Regions from separate parts of the Homo sapiens genome. Here region 1 is linked to region 2. A link means that fine-mapping ties the variant in region 2 to the expression of a gene that starts in the linked region. Tissue or cell type: skeletal muscle. Region 2 holds a variant in brackets; the other region holds the start of a gene. All regions are shown on one strand. Distances are between the middles of the regions.

Evidence for each region. PIP is the estimated chance that this variant, and not a neighbour inherited with it, causes the effect.
Region 1: SEC14L5 starts here. The variant in region 2 is fine-mapped to the expression of SEC14L5 in skeletal muscle (GTEx, PIP 0.97).

The regions. Positions count from the first base shown.
Region 1 is chr16:4,955,722-4,960,866 of GRCh38, reverse strand. It overlaps SEC14L5 (SEC14 like lipid binding 5), which reads right to left and starts at 2,537. Exons shown (of 16, transcript NM_014692.2): 1 at 2,422-2,537; 2 at 1,481-1,594. The coding sequence starts at 1,543. RefSeq lists an enhancer at 2,010-2,545 and silencers at 2,349-2,644, 2,443-2,652.
Region 2 is chr16:5,015,573-5,020,717 of GRCh38, reverse strand. It overlaps SEC14L5 (SEC14 like lipid binding 5), which reads right to left. Exons shown (of 16, transcript NM_014692.2): 16 at 1,561-5,145. Among named protein-coding and RNA genes, the nearest start is that of NAGPA-AS1, 16 kb to the left of the region's middle. The variant G/A (reference allele first, on the strand shown) is at 2,567.

The DNA of each region.
Region 1 (5,145 bases), 60 kb after region 2:
CAGAAGCAAAGTCACTCAGGCACTTGCAAAAACAGTAACGATCATAGCTGGATCTCAGTGAGCATTTGATCTGCGTCAGCCCCGTACCAGGAGCTTTATACACATTGACTCATTTAATCCACAGCATGACACCAGGATTTGGAAGCCAGGAGATTCCCATTGGTGATGGGGAGTGGAGGCTCATGGAGGTGAAGTGACTTGCCCCACAGTCACTCAGCTCGTCAATTGGGGAGCTAGAATATGACCCTAAGCCAGTTCCTGCCTCTTTGCTGTCCTAGAACCATCTGCCTGTAACAGCACAAGGTATGTGGATGATTTTGGTGATGCTTTTAAATCCTCTGTGTGACAATAAACATATACGCATGTAGATTCATAGAATAAGACAGGACTGGACACACAGGCACACACAGCCACCAAGAGATATGAAAGTCCCTGGATAGAAGGCTGGGGTTAAGCAGTCAGTGCTGGGGTGGGACAGATGGGGGTGGATGCTAATGTTTCTTACACTTTCAATACATTAATTTACAAGACTTCGGTGTAATAACAGCGACAGCATATTTTGTGAGCTCCTACTGTGTGCCCGGCACACAGCAAGGAGCACCAAGAACTATCTCATTTACTCCTCCCCGCAACCTTGTAGCATTGTCCCCATGTTACTGAGCAGGGAAGTGAAGTGCTCAGAGGCAGAGGGATGCAGCCAAGAAGGAATTCCACATCCACCTATGTCCAGCTTCTGCCCCCAGGGTGAAAAGACCAGTGATCCTGGGGGCCAAGGATCTGGCAGCCAATTCTAGGCCTCCAACTGACTTGCTGCACAACACAGAGTACATCACAAAGCAAACCTACCCACTCATTCTCTCTCTCGTCCCAGTGTCAGCTTCCTTAAAGGGGAGGGAAGGGGGTCTGTGAGCAGAAGGAGGGCTCTGTGGTCAAATGTGAGGTTCTAGAGTCTCCTTTGTGGGGATCTCAGCCCCGACTCCACCTCTGCGTAGATACAGAACTTAGTGTCATCCCTTCACCTGTCAAAGCCTCAGTTTCATGGAGGTTACATGGGAAAATAACAGCTATCGGGAATTGGAAGAAACATCATCTGTTAAGACAGTGCTGTAAACATTCAATAAACAGCTGTTGTCATTATCACCACCATTCCATTTATCACTGTGATATGCCATTATATGAAATGACAGCAGTGGCTTGGCCCCTGATACCTTTGTTTTCTATCAGGAGAGTCTAAAGTAAGGGAGCAGGTCAGCTTCAACAAGGAGAAGGAAGAAAGACTTTGTGTTTTGGTCACTGGGCCGAGGATAGGATGGTTGGACAGAGAGGTCACTGGATAGAAGTTAAACCCACCAGGTCAGCTGAGTAACTCACTAATTCCTTCTGATCTGGGAGTCTAAGGAGCTCCGTCTTCCTACCGCCATAGCTGATCTCAAGCCCCTCCAACTGTCACATGGGGGCCCAAGAATCAGGAGTCACTCACCGCCATGACCAGCTCAAACGGGTACTTGTAGACTCGGACAGGAGACTGGTATCTTTGCACCATGTTCACGCTGGAGCACCAATGGAGGTCACCAGGCAGGGGTGTGCACAGAGCCTGGGGCGAGGAGTGACTGGTGAGGTTGCAGCTCCCACCTCGGGAAGCAGGGACACCACCCACCAAGTGTAAGGGGCAGCCCCTGGCCCCACCCACACAGCTCCCCAGCCTTCAAATTGAGAAGGCTGATATTCCCCCCAAATTACTCCAGGCCAAGCCCCAACAGCTTCCCTGTCATTAGCCATGGCCCCAGACCACGCTCAGCCTTCCAAGAGCAGTCAGCACCCCCAAACTTTCCTCTACCCCCACCCCTTCACACTGAGGGCCCCCAGAAGCCTTACGGCCACCCACACAGACACACACACATTTGCAATTCTTACACTCCCACGGTTCTATTCACGCATGCACCCCGCAGCTTGCCACAGACTTGCTGGCCTACAGCCCACCCCCGAGTCTCCTTGCACCTGCCCTCCCATTTTCCTCCCAGACACCCTGACATACACACACAGCCTTCACCACATTTCACAGGCACTGTCTCTATCACACACATGTACACACGCAGGTTTCCCTCCCACACGGGACTGCTTTTGCACACGCCTCCAACTTTGCACACACACCCTGAAACACGCACCTGCCCAGCTCCACGCACGCAATTCCCCTGGTGTGCACAGACGTGCACACACGCACACACACCCGTGCGCACATGCACACACACGTACACACACGTAGAGGCAATCGCACACGCATGCACACACAGGTCCCCGCAGCTTTGCTCACCCTCGCCCTCGGGAGCCTTTGGGAATGCAGCCTAGGGGAAGTGCCCTGGAAGCCCGCCTGGCTCGGGAGCTGAGCGCTTACCCGCGCCCGCCTGGCCTGGAGCGCAGTACCTGAGGCGGGGCCCGATCGCGGATCTCTAGCCTGGTGTGTCCCGCCTTGAACACCCTGCGGCCAGGACAGCTGTGGAAGGCCGGAGGGGCGGGAGCGAAACCTGCCGGGCCGAGAGAGCTCCAGGACCCGGGACAGCGGAGATCCTGGCCTGGCCCCGCCCCTGACCTGGTCCCGCCCACGTCCCCGGCCATGGCCCCGCCCAGGTTGGCCCTGCCCCCTAACTGGTCCCGCCCCACTCTGGCCCCGCCCCAGGCGAACTCCCCCTGGTTCTAGCCCCGCCCCTTATTTTTAGATGTCGCTTGTTTGACCACGCCCTCAGCCCAGTCCTTTCTCTAGATTGGTCACACCTCAGGAAGTCCCCTCCCCCTTCACTGGCCCCGCCCTCCAAGGCCCTCAGCCTCGGGGAATGGTAGGCCACAGGACGACCCCGCCCTAATCTAGCTCTGCCTCCAAGCAGACCCTGAGTCCGGGCCGACCCGCCCCGGACCCTGCGTCTGGCCGACAGTACTGTTTACATTTGTAGATAAGCAGAATTTACGCTTTTCTTGCTCAGATTAACCTCGCCCTCGTCCCGCTGCACTTGGGTCTGACTGGCTCCTCCACCTGTCCCCGCCCCACGGCCCGCGCATGCACCTTCGCCCACTCTGCACACCTTCACAGAGCGCCTGCTGGGGGTCAGCCCTGTCCAGGCGCTGGAGAGCCGCCGGTGAGCCACACGCACGAATCCCTGCCCTCGTGGAGTTTATACTACGGTGGGGAGACAGACACTCAATAAATAAGGCAAATATATGATGTGTGAGGTAGTGAAAAACTCTAACGAGAGAAAAATAAGCAGGAAAGGGGCTCAAGGAGCCAGCGGAGAGAAAGGACAATTTAAAACAGGTAAGAGGCCGGGCGCCATGTCTCACGCCTGTAATCCAAACACTTTAGGAGGCGGAAGCGGGAGGACCGCTTGAACCCAGGAGTTGGAGACCACCCTGGGTAACATAGCAAGAACCTATCTCTACAAAAAAATTTTTTTTTAGTTTAGGCAGGGCGCGGTGGCTCACGCCTGTAATCCCAGCACACTGAGAGGCCAAGGCAGGCAGATCAGCTGAGGTCAGGAGTTCGAGAACAGCATGGCCAATATGAGGAAACCCCGTCTCTACTAAAATACAAAATTAGCCGGGCATGGTGGCGTATACCTGTAATCTCAGCTACTCGGGAGGCTGAGGCAGGAGAATCGCTTGAATCAAGGAGGCGGAGGTTGCAGTGAGCCGAGACTGCGCCACTGCACTCCAGCCTGGGCAAGAAGAACAAAGCTCCGTCGCAAAAAAAAAAAAAAAAAATTAGCCAGGCGTGTTGGCACGTGCCTGTGGTCCCAGCTACTCAAGAGGCTGAGGCAGGAGGATCCCTTGAGCCCAGAAGTTCAAAGCTGCAGTGAGCTGTTACCTGGCCACTGCACTCCAGCCTGGGCAACAAAGCAAGACTCGGTCTCAAAATAAATAAGTAAATAAATAAATAAAACAGGGAGTAAGGGGGCCTCCCTTGGGAGAGTGACATTTGTCCATCACTCTCATTTTAACTCACACTTAACCCCTTTCAGCCCTCCCAGGACTCCCAGGGGACCAACCTTGCTCCCAGAAGTCCTGCCTTGCCACTCCTCATCTGTTTAGCCTACAAGACCCAAGAAATTGGCTCTGGACAGTGCTGTCATCCATGTATTCACTCATTCAACATTTACTGAGCACCTACTACGTGCCACCGTGGGGTGAATTCACCCCTTCAAGCAGGGGAAGTCAGAGGTGGCCAGGGAGATGGACAACCCCTGATATATTTCAAGTATGTCACTGCACCCTGTGAAAATCACCTCTCTTCCCTTCCTAGCCTGCATCACATTCTAATATTGCATTTATTCGTTTTATATATCTGTGGGTTCCTGGAGGTCTCTCTCAGGAGACTGTGAGCTCCCTGAGGGCAGGGGCAGTGGCTGCCTTATTCAGCTGCCCGCATGTTGGGAAGGATCTTACTGGGGACCTGGCAGGCAGGCAGCAGGTGCCCAGCAGACTCTTGGCTTAGGTAATCAAGGGCGGAAATGGGACACAAAGTTCCCATCCCTGTCGCAAGGTGGCAGCAAATGATAGCCCATGGCTCCTGGAGTAACACAAGGGTGAGTAGGTGGGGGACATGGGATCCAGGGATGACTGTCCTAACCCGGGCTCATCCAGGAAATGCCCAGCTCTGCCCAGGCATCGCCACAGAGCAAAGTGAACGTTAACACCGTTAGCTGCTGTTACCACCACGAAAGGCGTTAAGTCCGCCTCTCCTGCTGCCCAACATTGAGGGAGGACAATGACTGCGTGGGAGACAGAGGTGTGACAGCCCTGCGGGTACAGAGAGCTCAAAGTGGAAACTGGGGCCTGGAGGGGAGTGAGAACCCCACTCCCTCCTCCTCCAGCCCCAGGGAAGGGAATTAATAACGCCACCAACACTCACTCCAGCTTTTTTTGGGTTTTGGGGTTTTTTTTTTACGTGGAGTCTTGCTCTGTTGCCCAGGCTGGAGTGCAGTGGCGCAGTCTCGGCTCACTACAACCTCCGCCTCCCAGGTTCAAGCAATTCTCCTGCCTCAGCCTCCCGAGTAGCTGGGATTACAGGCGCTTGCCACCACACCTGGCTAATTTTTGTATTTTCAGTAGAGACAGGTTTCATCATGTTGGCCAGGCTGGCCTCAAACTCCTGACCTC
Region 2 (5,145 bases):
TTGAAACCCGCCACCCACAGTTCCAGAGAAATCCACGGAAGAGTCACCGCCCATGAACACACGCAAGTGCAAGCCGCCTCCTCTCCCCTGACGAGCTGTGCTGGGCAGGGCTGGGGAGCAGAAGCTGGGTGGACAGATGGCCCTCGTGCCATCACACAAAACACCACACCTGCTCTGCTCTCACAAATGACAACCCCAGCCACCAGCTCCAAAACGACGAAGGCTTTTCAGAGTCCCAGGATCTGTGTGGCAGCCAGCTCCACTCTCCGTGCCCCAAGAGAGCTCACGGGAAGGACAGGTGGCACCCTGGACAGGGTTCATCACAACCTTCTGACGTCAGGACTGTGGCTGTTTTGGGATGCAGCTCTCCAGGACACCAGGTCTGGCACTTTGGTAAAACCCCAGGGGGAGGGCAGGGCAGCCCAGGAGAGATGGGCACCAGGGATTTTCATATCTGTTTAATGCAGATATAACTGTGTATCTGGTTAGCTATTGTATGCATACATAATAAGTTGAGTAGCATGCCCCAAAATTCATGTCCATCCGGAACCTTAAAATGTGACCTCGCTTGGAAGTAAGATCTTTGCAGGTGGAATTAGTTAAGGATCTCAAGACGTTATACTGGACTTAGGATGGGTCCTAAATCCAATGACTGGCATCCCTACAAGAAGAGGAGACACAGAGAGAGAGGAAGGCCATATGATGATGGAGGCAGAGACTGGAGTGATGCAACCACAAGCCACGAGGTGCCACTAGACACTGGAAGAGGCAAGGAAGGGTCCTCCCCTACAGCCTTCAGAAGGAGCAGGGCCCTACCTCCATGGTGATTCCGGACTTCCAGCCTCCAGAACATTCCTGTTGTTGTTGTTGCTGTTGTTGTTGTTTTGAGACGGAGTCTCACTCTGTCACCCAGGCTGGAGTGCAGTGACATAATCTTGGCTCACTGCAAGCTCCGCCTCCCGGGTTCACGGCATTCTCCTGCCTCAGCCTCCCGAGTAGCTAGGACTACAGGCGCCCGCCACCATGCCCGGCTAATTTTTTGTATTTTTTAGTAGAGACGGGGTTTCACCATGTTAGCCAGATGGTCTCAATCTCCTGACCTTGTGATCCACCCGCCTCGGCCTCCCAAAGTGCTGGGATTACAGGCGTGAGCCACTGCGCCTGGCCTATTTCTGCTTTATATATAAAAATTGTGATCCTCCCTCACACGGCCCAATAACCAATCTTGAGAACCTTAACTAATTACACCTGCAAAAACCTTATTTCCAAATGAGGTCACATTCTAAGGTTCTAGGTGGACATGAATTTGGGGACATGCTATCCAATCCATTACATATGTATACAATATATATGATACACAATTATACCTGCATTAAACAGATATGCAGCCCCTTGGGGGTGATATCACTCCGGTTGCAAATGCTCTAAAGCAAGGGTGTCCAATCTTTTGGCTTCCCTGGACCACATTGGAACAAGAAGAATTGTCTTGGGCCACACATAAAATACACTAATGATAGCTGATGAGCTGAAAAAACAAAGAAAACACACACACAAAAAACCTCAGTATTTTAAGAAAGTTTACGAACTCGTGTTGGAGCACATTCAAAGCAGTCCGGGGCCGCGTGCAGCCTGCAGGCCACAGGCTGAACAAGCTAGCTCTAAAGTCTTTTAAACAACAGCTGGAAAGTTCTTGAACGAGCCCACGGGAAACCTCCAGGGTTTTAGGAAGCTGACGATGCAAGTTTATCCAAATGGAAAACATTTAATGCTGCTGGTTGGAGCAAGTGATCAGGCAAACAAAAAAACCCATCGTGTTTCACTGGCTCAAAGAGACTTTGTTGAAAACAATTATACTATTCTCATTGGACAATAAATTTTACAGCAGGGAGGGGGAATTCCAGAGAGTGCAGGGTAGAAAAAAAGAGTCTCAAACTCTCCATACTTCAACCTCTGGGAAAAAACATTTTCTAACTGCCAAGGGAAATACCACTCAGAATACACTCCCTCAGATGGGTGGACTTACCCAGAAAACACAAGCAGCTTCTTTCTTCTTTTTTTGAGACAGGGTCTTGCTTTGTCACCCAGGATGAAGTACAGGGGTGAGATCATGGCTCACTCCAGCCTTGACCTCCAAGCAATCCTTCTGCCTCAGCCTCCCGAGCAGCTGAGACTATAGGCACGCACCACCACGCCTGGCTCATTTTTTAATTTTTTGTAGAGACAGGGTCTCACTATGTTGCCCAGGCTGGTCTTGAACTCCTGCACTCAAGCGATCAGCCGGCCTCAGCCTCCCAAAGTGTTGGGATTATAGGCATGAGCCACCACGCCCCGCCCACACAAGCAGTTTCTAAAAGAGAAAGACTGCACACCCAACTCAGAGGGCAATAATTCTTGACACCTACTTTTCTCTGGGTGCAATAACGAAAAACAGGGATAGGCGACCTCAGGAAGAAAACGAGTCTTTGGATGCGAAGCATTAAGTAATCAGAATGACCACTGACATTAATGGAGCGCTTTCTGTGTTCTGGGAGCTGTGCTGAAAGCTTTACAGCTACTCCCTCATTTC[G/A]TCCCACTACAACCTATTGAGGTAGGCACTGCTATCCTCACTTTACAGATGAGGAAACTGAGGCACAGAGAGGTTAAGTCACCTGGTCAAGGTTACACAGCTAGTGAAAGGAAGGCTGGGGTTTGAGTCCTGGCCTAAATTCAAGGCCCAGGTGCCCAAACACCAACAGTAATGCTGCTTGTGGGTTGCTTCTGTCCTGGTCACAATGGATTAATGAACTAATGATGCAAGAAGCCCAAGCCAAGGCACTTCCAGCCTTTGTGGCTCAGGGGAAATTCAAAAGCCAAAAGCTTGGCAATCCCTTCCTTGGATTATTTTTAATTCCAGTCCTCCCGAAGGCAAGAAGAATGACCTTGATAATGCTTCCACGTGGGTCCCCGAGACCTCCACATGGGAGGAGAGCCGGCCGTAGCAGATGCCACCATGGATACCTGCTGGTTCTGTGGTCCAGCTTCTCTTGTCCATTGGGGGAATGGCCCTCCCCAATCCTGCTGCGGCTTCTGCAGGGAATGTCAATCACGGGACCCTAGTTCCTTGCCAGTGTGGCCCACAGGAATAAGCATGTGACTCGAGCTGGGCCAATCAGAGCCTTCCATGAGATTTGAGATGGAAAAGCATCTCTTAGAGTGTGAATCCTGAAATTATAGGCTTGGGGCTGCTGGCAGCCATCTTTCCCGCCAGGTGGAAGAAAGAATGAGGTCAGCATGCAAAGAGATGCAGAGTCAAGAGGCCTGGGTGCAGTTGAGAGGCCTGAGGACATTAAGCTCCTGGATCCAGCCATATCTGAAGCAGCACCCACCTTCAGCCATCCCTAGTACAGGACCCAGGGAATTTGCTTTGTTGCTTAAGCCAGTTTGGGCTGGTTTTCCCTAGGGAGAGAGCACTCTCAAGAGCAGAACTGAAAGGGCCTGAGGTTCCTCACCCCCACTGTTAAGGGTGGACAGCTGATAGCAGACTCCCCTCCCCCCACCCGCCTCTGGAACAGGCAGTTCCAGCTTCCTTCCGTAAAAGGCTTCTGTGTCCTTCTCTGGGGCTAGACAATAAATGTATAAAGACTGCCAGGGCAGCTTATCCCAGCATACTTGTAGGATAACACCTAGTTTTTAAGAGAAAAGCTAGAAATTCACTTAAAGATAGTTGAAAATATTGCAAGTTGCTCTCAGCAATAAATGCCTGGTGATATGGGAGCAATTAGTTTTGAGAACGTCTCCTTCCAATCAGTCGGTCTCTTATGCACACATGTGCACACACACCTTGACGCAGAGTGCAAAGCAATCTATTTTGTTCAGATACCTGAGAAGCGGACAGAGAGCCAACAGGAAGGTGGGCAAGGCTCTCTCCCAGCAGGAAGAAGGATGTATCTGAAAAGATGACACTTTCTCTCTTCCTTGGGTTTGGGGTTGAGGCTGGCGTAGATATAAGTTTCCTGGCCCTGCATTGCTGAGCCTGCATAAAGATGATTCTTGTGGCCACAAAACCACCCCTTGGCTCAGTTACTGCAGCAGAGATGAGCCCCAACTCTAAGCAAGGCCAGGAGACAAGGGTACCAGCCACTGCTGACAGAGCCATGTCAGTGAGACTCCTGCCACGCAGGTCATGAGGATGTGTAATGTGGGCTGGGCGCAAGTCAATGGGGTAGGGACTGGCGTGGCCACATCCAGGGGTGCAGAGGTGTTGTCTTCATGCAACAATAGTGACCCCATTCTGCTGGTGCTCCCAAATGCCTAAGGGAAGCCAGAAATCCTGATTTCGATGCGAAATGCCTCAATTTTTAAACCATTCTAAAGGCAAAAAAGCAACACTAAAAGCAGGCCAGATCAGGCTTCAAGTTGGTGACCCCTGACTGGCTGCCTTTTGGGGAGTCCAGGAAAGGAAAGGAGAAATGTCCTCAGGCCCCAAGGAGACCCAAGACGCTCCTGTGTAGTAACTAGGGGAACTCATGTCAATATTGAACCTAGTTCCAGAGTCATATCTGCCCCAGGGCAAACACAGCAGCCTCCACTCGCGGGGGGAATCGAGACTCCATGTTGAGACCCTGGATCTAGCCTTACCTGAAGCAAGCCCTCCTGGACTGGCCAGTTCTATGCACCCATGAATGATCATGCTTTTGTGTTGAAGCACCTGGGCATGGGTCTCTGTGGCTTACAACCAAAAACAGTCATAATTAAACAGTTCCCTAGGAGAGAAAGGCATCTCCAGTGGGGTATACAGACAGCCTCAGTCACCCCATCACTGCCTGGAACTTAGCAGAAACCCAGGGCTCTCCCACCCTCTCCAATCAGGGATGGTCAGGCTTAGGCCATGCTGGCCAAGTGCAGGGAACATGGATTTTCACTTCAGGATGTGCTGTTCCCCACAAAGAGCAGCGCCTGTAACTCACTTAACTGCTCACCAAGCACATCTTGATACTGCATAACAGAACGTTATGCAATCAGATGCCAAGGTAAACACCCTTCATTTCTGCCTCCCCAGCATCCTTCCTCCTTCTTCTTAGGGGGGACCCCAGTACTCCTCGAGGCACCCACTAGTGCTTTTGAGAGCAGGTGGTTGGTTCCAGAGATGTGCATGTGATCCAGGCT